Linked DNA regions of Homo sapiens. The protein of the gene in region 2 purifies or fractionates together with the protein of the main gene of each other region. This does not show direct contact. Each region holds a gene or a part of one and is shown on either strand. Other genes may lie near its edges.

Region 1 (3,646 bases), on a different chromosome or scaffold from region 2:
CACAAAGGCTAAATAGAATATTAGTAGAATATTCAGTAATAATAGGACTTGAACTGCTGTTTTTCTCTGTATGTTAAAATAATTTTTCAAAGAAATACAAGGTTAGGCTATGAACAATTTATGATTTTATTAAAATCATAGAAAGGACTACTTATCTTCATATTTGAGAAGTTTATATCATTGTGCTTTTACTTAGTTTTCAGCATATTTGCTTCCCCTCATTTTAAAGTAAATTTCTCTAAGCATATTCTATGCTTTGTTCTTCTGCTTCTGATTTGATATATTATTTTCCTCCTAGAACTCAAACATTGAGCTTTACACCTAGCTTCTGAGAGTCACTGTAATGGAAAAGAGAAGCCAGATAATTTCTTGGCCATACCCTGCCTTCAAACTTATCCAGGATGTGTTCATTTTGCAGCTCTTGGAGCAGTTCCATCTCCTATTGATTGTTACCTCTGCAATCGAGGTCTGAAGACTCTACATGTCCGAATGGAAAAGCATTTCAAAAACGGAATGGCAGTTGCCCAGTTCCTGGAATCTAATCCTTGGGTAGAAAAGGTTATTTATCCTGGTATGTTAATTTGATTTCTAAGCAGATCTACTAGGATTTCAGCAGTTATCCTGAGCATCGTGTTTATGTAACATTTATTTGTAAGTTAGGTGCTTTCACGTATTGTTTTTGTTCATTTATTATTGAGCACTGCCATGTGTCAGGCTCTGTGGTGGGTCAGGTGGAAAGAAGATAGACCTGGTCTCTACTGTTGTATTGCCTCTAGTTTAGTGGATGCTTGGATAGTAGAAAATCAGTTTTATGCATTAGTTGTTCCTGTGGTGGTCTGTGATTTGAAGGCTTGTGTATACCTATTCAAAGATTTTAACATTAGACTTTTCAGTTGATTTGCTTATAATCTTGTCTGTCTGCTATTCAGCATTAGCTGTCACTTTAATCTGATAGAGGTTTGTCCCAGTTGAGACTTGATATTAGGTGCTAAAATTCCCCTGAGGTTCTCTCTCTCTCTTTTTTTTTTTTTTTTTTTTTGAGACGGAGTTTCACTCTTGCCCAGGCTGGAGTGCAATGATGCAATTTCAGCTCACTGCAACCTCTGCCTCCCGGGTTCAAGTGATTCTCTTGCCTCAGCCTCCCGAGTAGCTGGGATTACAGGTGCCCGCCACCACGCCCAGCTATTTTTTGTATTTTTAGTAAAGACGGGGTTTCACCATGTTGGCCAGTCTGGTCTCGAACTCCTGACCTCAGGTGATCTGCCTGCCTTGGCCTCTCAAAGTGCTGGGATTACAGGCGTGAGCCACTACGCCCAGCCCCCTGAGGTTCTCTCCTGTATTTCTCTCCTGTATTTTTATTCCTTCACCTCTTCCAGCATCTAGAAAGTCTTCTGTGGAGTTGGCTGACTTACATCTTACTTTTTGAATTTATTTTTACCAGTCTTTTAAGCTGTGGTGGTCCTAAGTAGTTCTTTTCTTTTTAGATCCTTTTGAGGGTTCTAGCATCTAGAATATATAGAAAAATTAAGACTGGAATTTCACTAGGAAATTCACAAGGAATTTAGAGAAACCAAAGCGAAATACATATGAAACTAAATGCCCTAAAGGTACTTTAGGTAAAGAGCTGTTGATTGATATATATTTTGGATGGAGGGAGAGAGAAGAGTTTTGAGCTATGCCATGAAGAATGGGCAGCATTGGTTAAAAGGGCATAGACAAGGTATTGGAGATTTATTCAAGAAATTTTTATTAAACGCCAGCTATGAGCCAGGCTTTGCACTAGGAACTGGGATCCAATTAGTAACAAAAGAAATGGATTTGCCCTCATGGAGCAACTCTGGTGGCTAAGACAGATACTAAGCAAGAAATTACAGGATATAATTAACAAGGGAAGTCCAGGTTGAAGGGACAGCATGTGCAAAGGTCCTGAGATGAAAGGGAGTGCAGTGGTGCTGGCATAAAGAAAGCTGAAGAGGGTAGAAAAGATGAGGCAACATGAAGCTGGAGAGATAGGGGCCCAAGCAAGTAGTCAGATGTGAGCATGGCATAATCCTCGTCTTAGGCTTATTTGCAGTTAAGTAGACAGTGAAAAATACCACCCTCCCCCCCCAAAAATTACATGTTTAATTCTAAAATAAGACTTATGATACCTTATGATTACAGGGCTGCCCTCTCATCCACAGCATGAGTTGGTGAAGCGTCAGTGTACAGGTTGTACAGGGATGGTCACCTTTTATATTAAGGGCACTCTTCAGCATGCTGAGATTTTCCTCAAGAACCTAAAGGTAAACTTACAAAATAGGTTTAAAATTGTAGGAGGTAAGGCCTTACAGCAGTTCACTATCTCTCACTTCTACTCAAGCCAGATAATGTTTTTGTATCTGCAGGTTACACTCATAAACCTCTTTATCATGAAATGCATTGGGTTGAAAACAACTTAAACAACAATGTAGCAGACATCTAAATATGTTCACTTACTTAACTCTCCACATACTACAATCAGTTTGGAGACACAGAGTATTCTAATGCATTTATTTAAAAGTGAACCCCTTTTTTCAGATGAAATAGGTAAAACCTCGAAGTAGTGTGCAGTTAGTGCACTGCACAAGGGCTGTTCTAAAATCCATCCTGTGAATGGCTTTCCAAACCCTGTGCCTCCTAAGCTGCATCTGACTGGGGTGAGGCCTTTGTCTAATTTTCAAAAAGCCAGGAGGAGGCTCTCAGGGGCCTTGAGCAAGAGGCCTGTCCAACTCCATACACTGGGCTTAACCTTGAGCTCATGCAGTTTATATACTACAGAATAGATTAACAGAAAGCTGCCAGATTAGTCAAAGTGTTCCTGGTGTCACCTTAATTTAATACATTTACCAAAGTAACTTTTAAAACATTTGTAAAGTTTTATGACACTATCACACTCAACATAAAAACAGTGGTTTTTTTTTTTTCCCCTATTCCAGCAGGGATTTAAAGGATGTATTTCATAAGTGATATATATTAACAAGGAAGTATGTATAACTTGGGAAGCATTTAGAGATTTTTTTATTTAAGTGGTAACCACAGAGCAAAGTCTCAAATGCAATAATTTTTTTTTTTTTTTTTTTTTTTTTAGGCAGAGTTTCACTCTTTTGCCCAGACTGGAGTTCAGTGGCATGATCTCGGCTCACTGCAACCTCCACCTCCTGGGTTGAAGTGATACTCCTGCTTCAGCCTTCCAGGTAGCTGGGATTACAGGTGCGTGCCACCATGCTCAGCTAATTTTTGTATTTTTAGTAGAGATGGGGTTTCACTAGTTGGCCAGGCTGGTCTCGAACTCCTGACCTCGGTGATCCGCCTGACTTGGCCTCCCAAAGTGCTGGGATTACAGGCATGAGCCACTGTGCCTGGCCTAAAAACATTTATTTTTAGATTTTAGTATTTTTATTTTACTAGAAAATCTAAATTCATGTTTTCTTTGCTATAGCTATTTACTCTGGCCGAGAGCTTGGGAGGATTCGAAAGCCTTGCTGAGCTTCCGTAAGTATAGTTCTGTTTTTCTCAGTATTTTAAATTTGATGTCAGCTTTAATGATTGGGAAAGAAATATGATAAGGTCAGGGATAATTCAAGATATTTAACAATAAGAATAGCAGGACATTAATCAGAATGGA
Region 2 (4,136 bases):
AATTTGTTTTAAATTATGACGTCTTTGAAAAGTATGCAATCTAAATTCGTTGGATTAGCGACGAGAATACTGAAGTTGAAGTGCATTTATAGAAGTCTATAAAATGGCAAAAAACTGAAAGGGAAAGAAATGAGCTATTTGAGTATTCTCTGTGTTGCTAGTAAACAAGTTCCAACTCTGCAAATCAGTTTTCAAAAGAATACTGATTGTTTCCTAAGTACCTGCAAACTCTGAAGCATTTTAGGCAAGGGAATGAGTGGGAAAAAAGTATCTTCATGTTTGTGCATTACAACAATAAAGACTATTATGTAACAATGTGGAGTCTTCAAAGCGACCCTGCCAAGAGGGAGAAAGTGGTCCTTATGGACGGATTGTTTTCTGCTAGAAGGCCCTCAATTAGAATTGTACTTACGCATACATAATATAGGATATTATTTTTATATTCATAGAAAACTGCTTTCTCGGGTAACTCCAGCGCTGTACATGGGATGGGATACCGGCCCTCCGTTTACAAATACTCAGGCGCAATGCTGCCCGGGCACTCAAAGGACAGAAGATAGTGTCTGTGCCCTGCGGGAGCAGGCCACGAATCCCGAAAACGCCGTGGCGCAGTGCTCCTTCCCGCGAACCTGAGTGGGCCGTGGTTCTCGGTTGCTCTGGACATAGGAAAATGTCAGTTCATGTGTGTCCCTTTCTCCACTAGATGTCACTGTAAATCAATTGCTTAAGGAGGGAACCCGGGCGTCTGGCGCATCTTCACACAGTACCGGGGTTTGAAGCCCGGTCAGTGTCTGCACTTGTGTCCTTCCCCACTGGGGAGCCCCAAGGCGGGGCAGGCGCGGGGACTCGCTGTGCACGGAGCGGCGCGCTGTCCGAATGGCAACCGAAGAGCCGCGACCCGGTCAACGAAGCGCGGGGGTGACCGGAGCAGGACGGGCGGGCAGGCGGCGCAGTGCGTGGGCGGGCCCGCGCTGCGCTCCCCTCCGCCCAGCTAGCGAGACGGTCACGTGCCGCCCAGGCGCTGCCCCTTGCGGGCGGCTGCAGAACAACAGGGCGGGGCCGGGGAGGGGAGGAACACGGAGGCCGACGCCGGGCGCCGCGGTGCTACGCCCGAGGCTGGGGTCGCCCCGGGCCGGGGGGAGCAGAGCGCGTGCGCCGCGCGGCTGTGAGCGCGAGCGGGGCCGGGGAGCGCGCGCGGAACGCTAGGGGGCGTGGCTGCGGCGCGCGCGCTAACCGGAGGGGGAGGGGCGGAGAGCCACCGCGGAGCGCGCGCGGGGTTGGTTGCCGCGAGCGTGGGGGAGCGTGGACCGCGGCGCTGCTCAGCGGTGGGGCTGCCTTCCCCCGGCCCTCCTCCCTGGTCCCTGGCGAGGGCACTGGCGGCGGCGGGGCCGGGGTCCGCAAGGCCGGAGAAGGCCGCCGGGCCCGGGCATGGTGGTCTGGGGCAACGCGGAAGGTGAGCGACCCCCGGGCCGGCGGCGGGGTGGGGGAGGGGCGGGATCGGACACGCGTCGCCCGGAGGCGCCGCAGACCCGCCCGGCAGCGGCCAGAGCGCGGTCGGCCTGAGGTGGCGCGGGGGAGGGGTGCGTCGCCCCGGCCCCGGCCCGCGGCCGTCCTGTCGCGGCCTGGGCTGTCCACGGCGCCTTCCCCTGACGCTCGCAGCCGCCGGGTTATGTAATGTGTGACCTCCCCTCCCCTTCCCTTCCGTCATGGCGCGGCCGGCCCCGCGCCGCCGCCAGCCCCATGGGCCGCCCCGCGCCGACCCCTGGCGCAGCGGCCCTTCCCTCCGCGCCCGGCCGCATCCCGCCGGCCCGGTCAGACCGCGCCGCAAACTCCTTCCTCCTGCGCCGGCGCCTCGGCCGGCCATTCAGTTCCGCGCCATTCATTCACGCGCGCGTTCGGGCGTTCGTTCCACAAGCGTTTGTAGAATGTCGACCCGGTCGAGCCGCCGCTCCCACCCGCACTCCAGCCACAGCGTTTTTCCGCACCCCGCCTTCGACGTCCCCGGTGCATCCCAGAACCGGTCGGAATGTCCGAAGGCGGTTGTTGCTCCCTTGTTTTTCCTTGCTGCTTGTCCGTTCGCTAAATACGCTGGGCGCCGTTCCCCAACTGTCCTTCCGAGAGCCCCTTGCCCACTTCTGTACTGTTACAGTGACGCCGCTCTGGGCGCACCGAGCCGCGCTGTGTTTCGCTGCTCTTCCTACCTATTCTCAGTTTGTAAAGAAATAATCTCACATAACACTCCTTAATGTACTCCTCCGTAAGATAAATTGCAGATAATATACGTCTGCTAATTCTCTTTATCTCCACGTCTTCTCACGCCATGTACTAAGTAGAAATGGTTTCATTTAGGTGAAAATAATGCAGACTAGCACATAGCACAACAAGGGCTTGTAACTATTAAGGACTTTATGTAACAGTCTGTAATTCTGTGTATCTGTCTGGTCTTTCCGGACTTGGCACTTTAGTCTCCGAGAATAAGCCATTTCCTGTTTAGGTAGGGTAGGACCAACCATAACCTTGGTTCTTTCTATGGAGTTCTGTATGTAGCAAATCAGCCTGTGGGAACCATCTATCTGTCCACCAACCTTTCACACATATTCTTGGGTTTGCCCGTGCAGGGACCAGTGCTGCGTATTGTTCCCTGCCTTCCTGTACTGGACACTTAAGAGCTCACCTAAAGTTCCTCTTCCAGGAATCATTCTCCAGTATACAAGGCTCTCTTCCATTCAATTCTTAGGCTATTTGCGCCTTTTCCTGTGTTGCGTTTATCTTTTTAGCCCTGTCTTCTCTTACTGTGTAGGACCTTTTGAGGGTAGAGTCTGTACCAAACTCCTATCTTTTGTTGTAGAACCTTAACCGCTATTTTACGGTAAACCGTACATATTTAATTTTTTTTGTAAAGATGGGAATTGCTCTTTTAAAATTAATTTCTATGAGGTCTCAAGTAGAACATAATTTTTAAAAAATAATGTGCTTGAATATATAAGATCACTACATTTCCAACTTCCCACTCGCAACTTCAAAACTCTGATTCTACATAAGAGCATTAAGGAAACGTTGTCCTCACCAGCAACAAACTGGTCATTATTCATAAGAAGTTGCAGTGACTACATATAATATATATTTGAAAGCACTTTCTTTGATAGCTGCTGTAGTGGAAAGACAGGAAGTTCACAGTTACATGGAGGTTAGATTTCTGGCCCTACAAATTGTTAGCTGGTGACTGGACAAGTTAAGTTACTAGTATCTCTGATTTTTTCTCGTTTGTAGAATGAAGATACCATTTCCCACCTTGGGTAGCTGAGGATTAAATCAGTTCTTAAACGTGAGACATCTAGTGACACCATGGTACTCAGGAGGTGCTCAGTAAATACATATTCCCTTTGGTATACCTGTTTATTGCAGTTCACAATCTAGAATGAGCCAGGATGTGCTAGAGACAAAGCGTGAGAGGAAAGGTAATCAGAAGAGGTGACAGGTACCTCTCGTCTCCAAATAAATGAACAAGTCCTACACTAAAGAGCATTGTGGGTCTTTCTGCTTTTCAAGAATGTATGGGTGTGTATATGTGGCGTATTACTAATCATAGAGTATATTAAACAGAACATTTAAAAATGAAAAGTTTTTTTTTACTATAATAGCACCAACTGAAGCGTTAACATGGACATTAAAAAATAATCTTATTTTTTTCCAAAGGCAAGTCAGGAGACGAGACGGGAAAAGGGATATTAAAAAGGCTCTTTAGAGGCAATTAGGTTGCAGGCTCTTCTGTTAGCATCTACTTATAAACAGTACATGAATCCTAGTCTAAGTTCCATTATCTCTTGGTTGGAGTGTTTCCATAGTGCCTTTACTGGTTTATTTCTCTTGCTCCCTGACTGTTCCCTAGGGATTCACCTTGACAACCAGAGGGATCTTTTTAAAAATGTAAATCAGATTGTCACTTTCTTGCTTAGTGTCCTCTAAAAGCATCCTGTGAACCACTTACATTTGAATCTTAGTCGCCATCAGGGCATAGCATGATTTGGCAGCTGCCAGCTTCTAACGTTACCTCTTACTAGGTGACTGACTTTCAGCAACCTACCCCAGTCCCATAGTCATTTTGCCGGTTCTTGAACAAAGTGTTTCTTCCTTAG
Region 3 (3,498 bases), on a different chromosome or scaffold from region 2:
CACAGCACCCAGCCACTGGTCCCATTCTGGCCTCACAGGGGAGAGGCGAGAGCAGGTGCCCACGTGGACCTGTGCCCCCAGTTCTCCAGGCCAGGTCTGTAAACAGCCGGGGCAGCTTCACGTGTTGGGAGAAGAGGCACGGGGGCGTCAGGGCTGGAAGCTTCAGGCACCAACTCTCGAGTGGTGGTCGCCATGCCCTCCTAGCCCCACCCTCTCCAGGCCTTACCCTTAGGGGTGTGAGGCTCCCATCCCTGGGGCCCACCCAGACCACTCCATCCTAAAGCAGGGCTCTGCCACTTGAAAAGTATGTCCAGCCACTCATTTGAAAACACACCCACCTTACGTGACCATTTAACAAGTATAACGTGTGCTCAGCTGTAGGTTAAAAAAGGAAAGAAAACGTTCCCAAACGGCCTTGTTCCCGGGAGCAGCTTCCTCCAGCTGGCCTGGCAGCTCCTGAGGCAGGCTGCAGCCTGTGCTCTGCTCTCTCAGGAGCACTCGGGGCCAGGGACTGCAGGGCCTGGGGAACCAGGGGTCGGGCGGGGCCTGCACCATCCCTGAAGGGCTGGGGGTCAGGTCATATCTCCCAGGCGGTGTGTAGCGCCCAGCATCTCTGCCCTGCCTGCCCTCCCGAGGGCCCCACAGGGAGCGCTCCAGCTGAGTGCCAGCTCAGCCCCACGCTTGCTGCCCCTCTCTGAGCAGCAGTTGCTTGGGATCACCCGCTCAGTCAACAGCACCACCCCACCAGGCACAGAAGAGGGACCAGTTCTCTGCATACTCAGGGTAGCCCCAGCCAGCATGAGGAGCCAATGGTCCAGCTTGGCCTGGGCCGGCTCTCCAGCCTCGCCCCCATAAGAAGGTCCCCAGGGGGGCCCAGGTCCTTCTGCAGGGCTCCCCACCATGCACATGGGCCGTGTGCCCACCTGCTGGCCGACAGCTCCCTGCAGACGGTGACCGGCTCCTGCACAGAAGACATTGAGGGCCACAGAGCTTGGGTGGCCGCTGGCCCTGCTCAGGACACACCAGGGACAGGTCCCCAGGGAGACCCTCGCTCTGCTGGGGCCAGCAGGGCTGGAAAGTGAGGTGGCGCCCACCACGGCTTGGGGCTCCTGCCGCCATCTTTGCATTGCAGTGTCACACAGCACAAAAGGACTGAACGAATGTTTATCCAGGGGCTCCAGGTTTCAGAGCAAGCCCTGAGAAAGCCTGAGCTTGCGGGTCCCACCTCTGGCCCCTGCCCAGGCCTTCCCTTTCGTAGGGCTCTGAGCCCCACTGCTGCATGGTGATCCACGCCCCAACAACGGGGTCAGCCTGCCTGTGGCACAAAGCCACTGTTGCCTCAAACTTCACCGGGCAGTAGTGGGGATGGGGGGTTCTTGTGTGCCTGGTGGCTCTGGCTGGTGGGGGCTCCCTGTGCCTCCCCCATCCTCCCAGCCCCAGTGGCTCTGGAACAGAGCTGGCATGACGCCTGCCCCACCCCATGGCCCCCAGCTGGGGTGAGCTGAGCCGGAGGGGTAGGGGTGAGGGCCAGTGCAGTGTGGTGGGCCAGGCCAGGAGGAGGGGCTGCAGCGAGGGCCAAGGGGCCTGCGAGAGGCATCCTGGACTGTGGATGGGGCCGGGGGAGCTGGACTCAGCCTCAGGGGCTGGGCACTCAGGGGCTCCTTGTGGGCATTAAGGTCCCACAGCTGGTTCAGGTGACCGAGTGGACACAGGAAACAAGGGGGCTCAGGGGCCGGGGCAGGACTCGGGCCTGAAAGTTCTCTTATCTTCGGCTCCCAGGCCCCAAGGCCAAGAGACCAGCAGGGCCTCCTCTCTCTTCCGCACTCTAGCTCTCGTCAGGAGGACCATGGAGTCCTTGGAACAGGTGCAGGCATTGGAGCTGCAGCTTCAGGTGAGGGGACACTTAAGCCTGCCCGGTCTTCCGGAGCCCAGGGTGAGGGGAGGCCAGCACCCCCAGGGCAAAAGAGCCAGGCCAAAGGGTGCAGCCCCAGCCCCGAGATGGCCACTCCACAGCAGGCACAGCCGTGGAGGCTGGACCGTCCCTGAAGCCCGGGAAGCCCCACCCGACTCTGCTCACTTCAGTGAACAGGGACGGCAGCCGGGGCTGGACCCCTCCCTCCCTGTCAAGAGCTGTGAAGGCTTGGTCCACTCAAGGTCAGGGACCCCCGGGAGGGCTCTCCTGGCCTCTAGGAGCCACCAATCCTCCCGGGGGCAGGACCCTGAGGGGCAAGCACAGGATGCCCCAGGACACACCCACCCATCCAAGGGCACCTTGTCTGCCGGCCGCAGCCTACCCACTGGCACAGAGGCCCTGGCAGGTGGGGGAACCTCCGCCAAGATCGAGGTGTCGTGACTGGGAGGTGGATGTGGCATAAGCCTGTTGCTGGGCGAGTGTGGTGAGTGTGCACGTGTATGCACATGTGTGCGTGTGGCTGTCTGATCATGTATCTGGATGTGTGCACCTGTGTGCTGTAGGCCCTGTCCCCCTGCTTGGGGTCTGGGAGGTGGCTGGGGGTGGCTGGCCCAGGCGTGGGGCTCACCTCTGGCTGCCACCTGCAGGTACCCCTCAAGGTGAGCCTGAGTGCCGGCCGCTCATGGGGACACCTGGTGCCACTGCAGGAGGCCTGGGGCCCTCCGCCAGGCCCATGTCGCACTGAGTCTCCCAGCAACAGCCTGGCTGCCCCTGGGTCCCCTGCCAGCACCCAGCCCCCACCCCTGCATTTTTCGCCTTCATTTTGTCTGTAGCCCCAGGCAACAGTGGGAGGAGAGAACTGGTTTCCAGCAGTCCATTGTGTGGCCTTCCCCAAGGTCACCAGCTCTGTACGCCCCAGGACGCATTAACCCTTTGGGGCTGGGGTGGCCCGCCATCCCCTGGAGTAAATGCCTGTGCAAAGCCCTCCTCATCCTTGTCTGAGTGAATTCTTCCTGTGAGTGGGAAGTGCCGCGTCCACCACCCCCAGCCACTTGGCCGGGGCAGGGCTGAGTGCCCCCAGTTGGGAGTGACCCAGGCTGGGTCTGGGCCAGACACTCCAGACTGGGTAGGCACTCCCAGCTCCCTCTCCCATGGATTCCAGGGGAGGGGGCTGCCTCGTGGCTCAGCAGCTGCTCCCCCCGGCAGGTGTCCAAGAAGCCACCAGCTCTGACGCCCTATGGTGTCACCCCCTGCTGGCTCCCTTCGCTTTAGGAAGCCATGGCCCAGGGCGTGCACCGTCCTCCCAGGCCAGCCCAGCGTGCAGCCCTGTACTGAGATGGAGAGAACACAGCCTCCCCGCAGGCACTGAGGCCCCTAGAGCTTGTGTTCCCGACTGATGTGTCAGGAGGACCAGAGGAGCCCCTCTATGAGAAGACCTGGCCACCCACTGCAGGCCTCCCCCATGGATGCAGCCTAGGGGCCACCGAGGACCCGCGGGCGTCTGGGGTCACATGCTCTCAGGCCACAAGGTCTCTCCCATGAGCCTCCTGCAGGCTAGTGACCAGTGGCTGCAAACAGGCTGGCTC

The links.
Region 1: the proteins of REV1 (region 2) and CTH purify together in Homo sapiens (affinity purification with western blotting; one study listed by BioGRID). This does not show direct contact.
Region 3: the proteins of REV1 (region 2) and POLN purify together in Homo sapiens (affinity purification with western blotting, with the first as the bait; one study listed by BioGRID). This does not show direct contact.

What each region holds. Positions count from the first base shown.
Region 1 is NC_000001.11:70,431,665-70,435,310, forward strand, and holds part of CTH (cystathionine gamma-lyase), read left to right. Parts: intron 1-418; coding exon 419-571; intron 572-2,163; coding exon 2,164-2,285; intron 2,286-3,460; coding exon 3,461-3,513; intron 3,514-3,646. UniProt on the Homo sapiens protein: Catalyzes the last step in the trans-sulfuration pathway from L-methionine to L-cysteine in a pyridoxal-5'-phosphate (PLP)-dependent manner, which consists on cleaving the L,L-cystathionine molecule into L-cysteine, ammonia and 2-oxobutanoate.
Region 2 is NC_000002.12:99,487,134-99,491,269, reverse strand, and holds the start of REV1 (DNA repair protein REV1), read left to right. Parts: upstream 1-1,252; 5' UTR 1,253-1,453; intron 1,454-1,858; exon of another isoform or gene 1,859-4,136. UniProt on the Homo sapiens protein: Deoxycytidyl transferase involved in DNA repair. Transfers a dCMP residue from dCTP to the 3'-end of a DNA primer in a template-dependent reaction.
Region 3 is NC_000004.12:2,071,361-2,074,858, reverse strand, and holds the end of POLN (DNA polymerase nu), read left to right. Parts: intron 1-1,829; coding exon 1,830-1,891; intron 1,892-2,559; coding exon 2,560-2,745; 3' UTR 2,746-2,941; downstream 2,942-3,498. UniProt on the Homo sapiens protein: DNA polymerase with very low fidelity that catalyzes considerable misincorporation by inserting dTTP opposite a G template, and dGTP opposite a T template. Is the least accurate of the DNA polymerase A family (i.e. POLG, POLN and POLQ).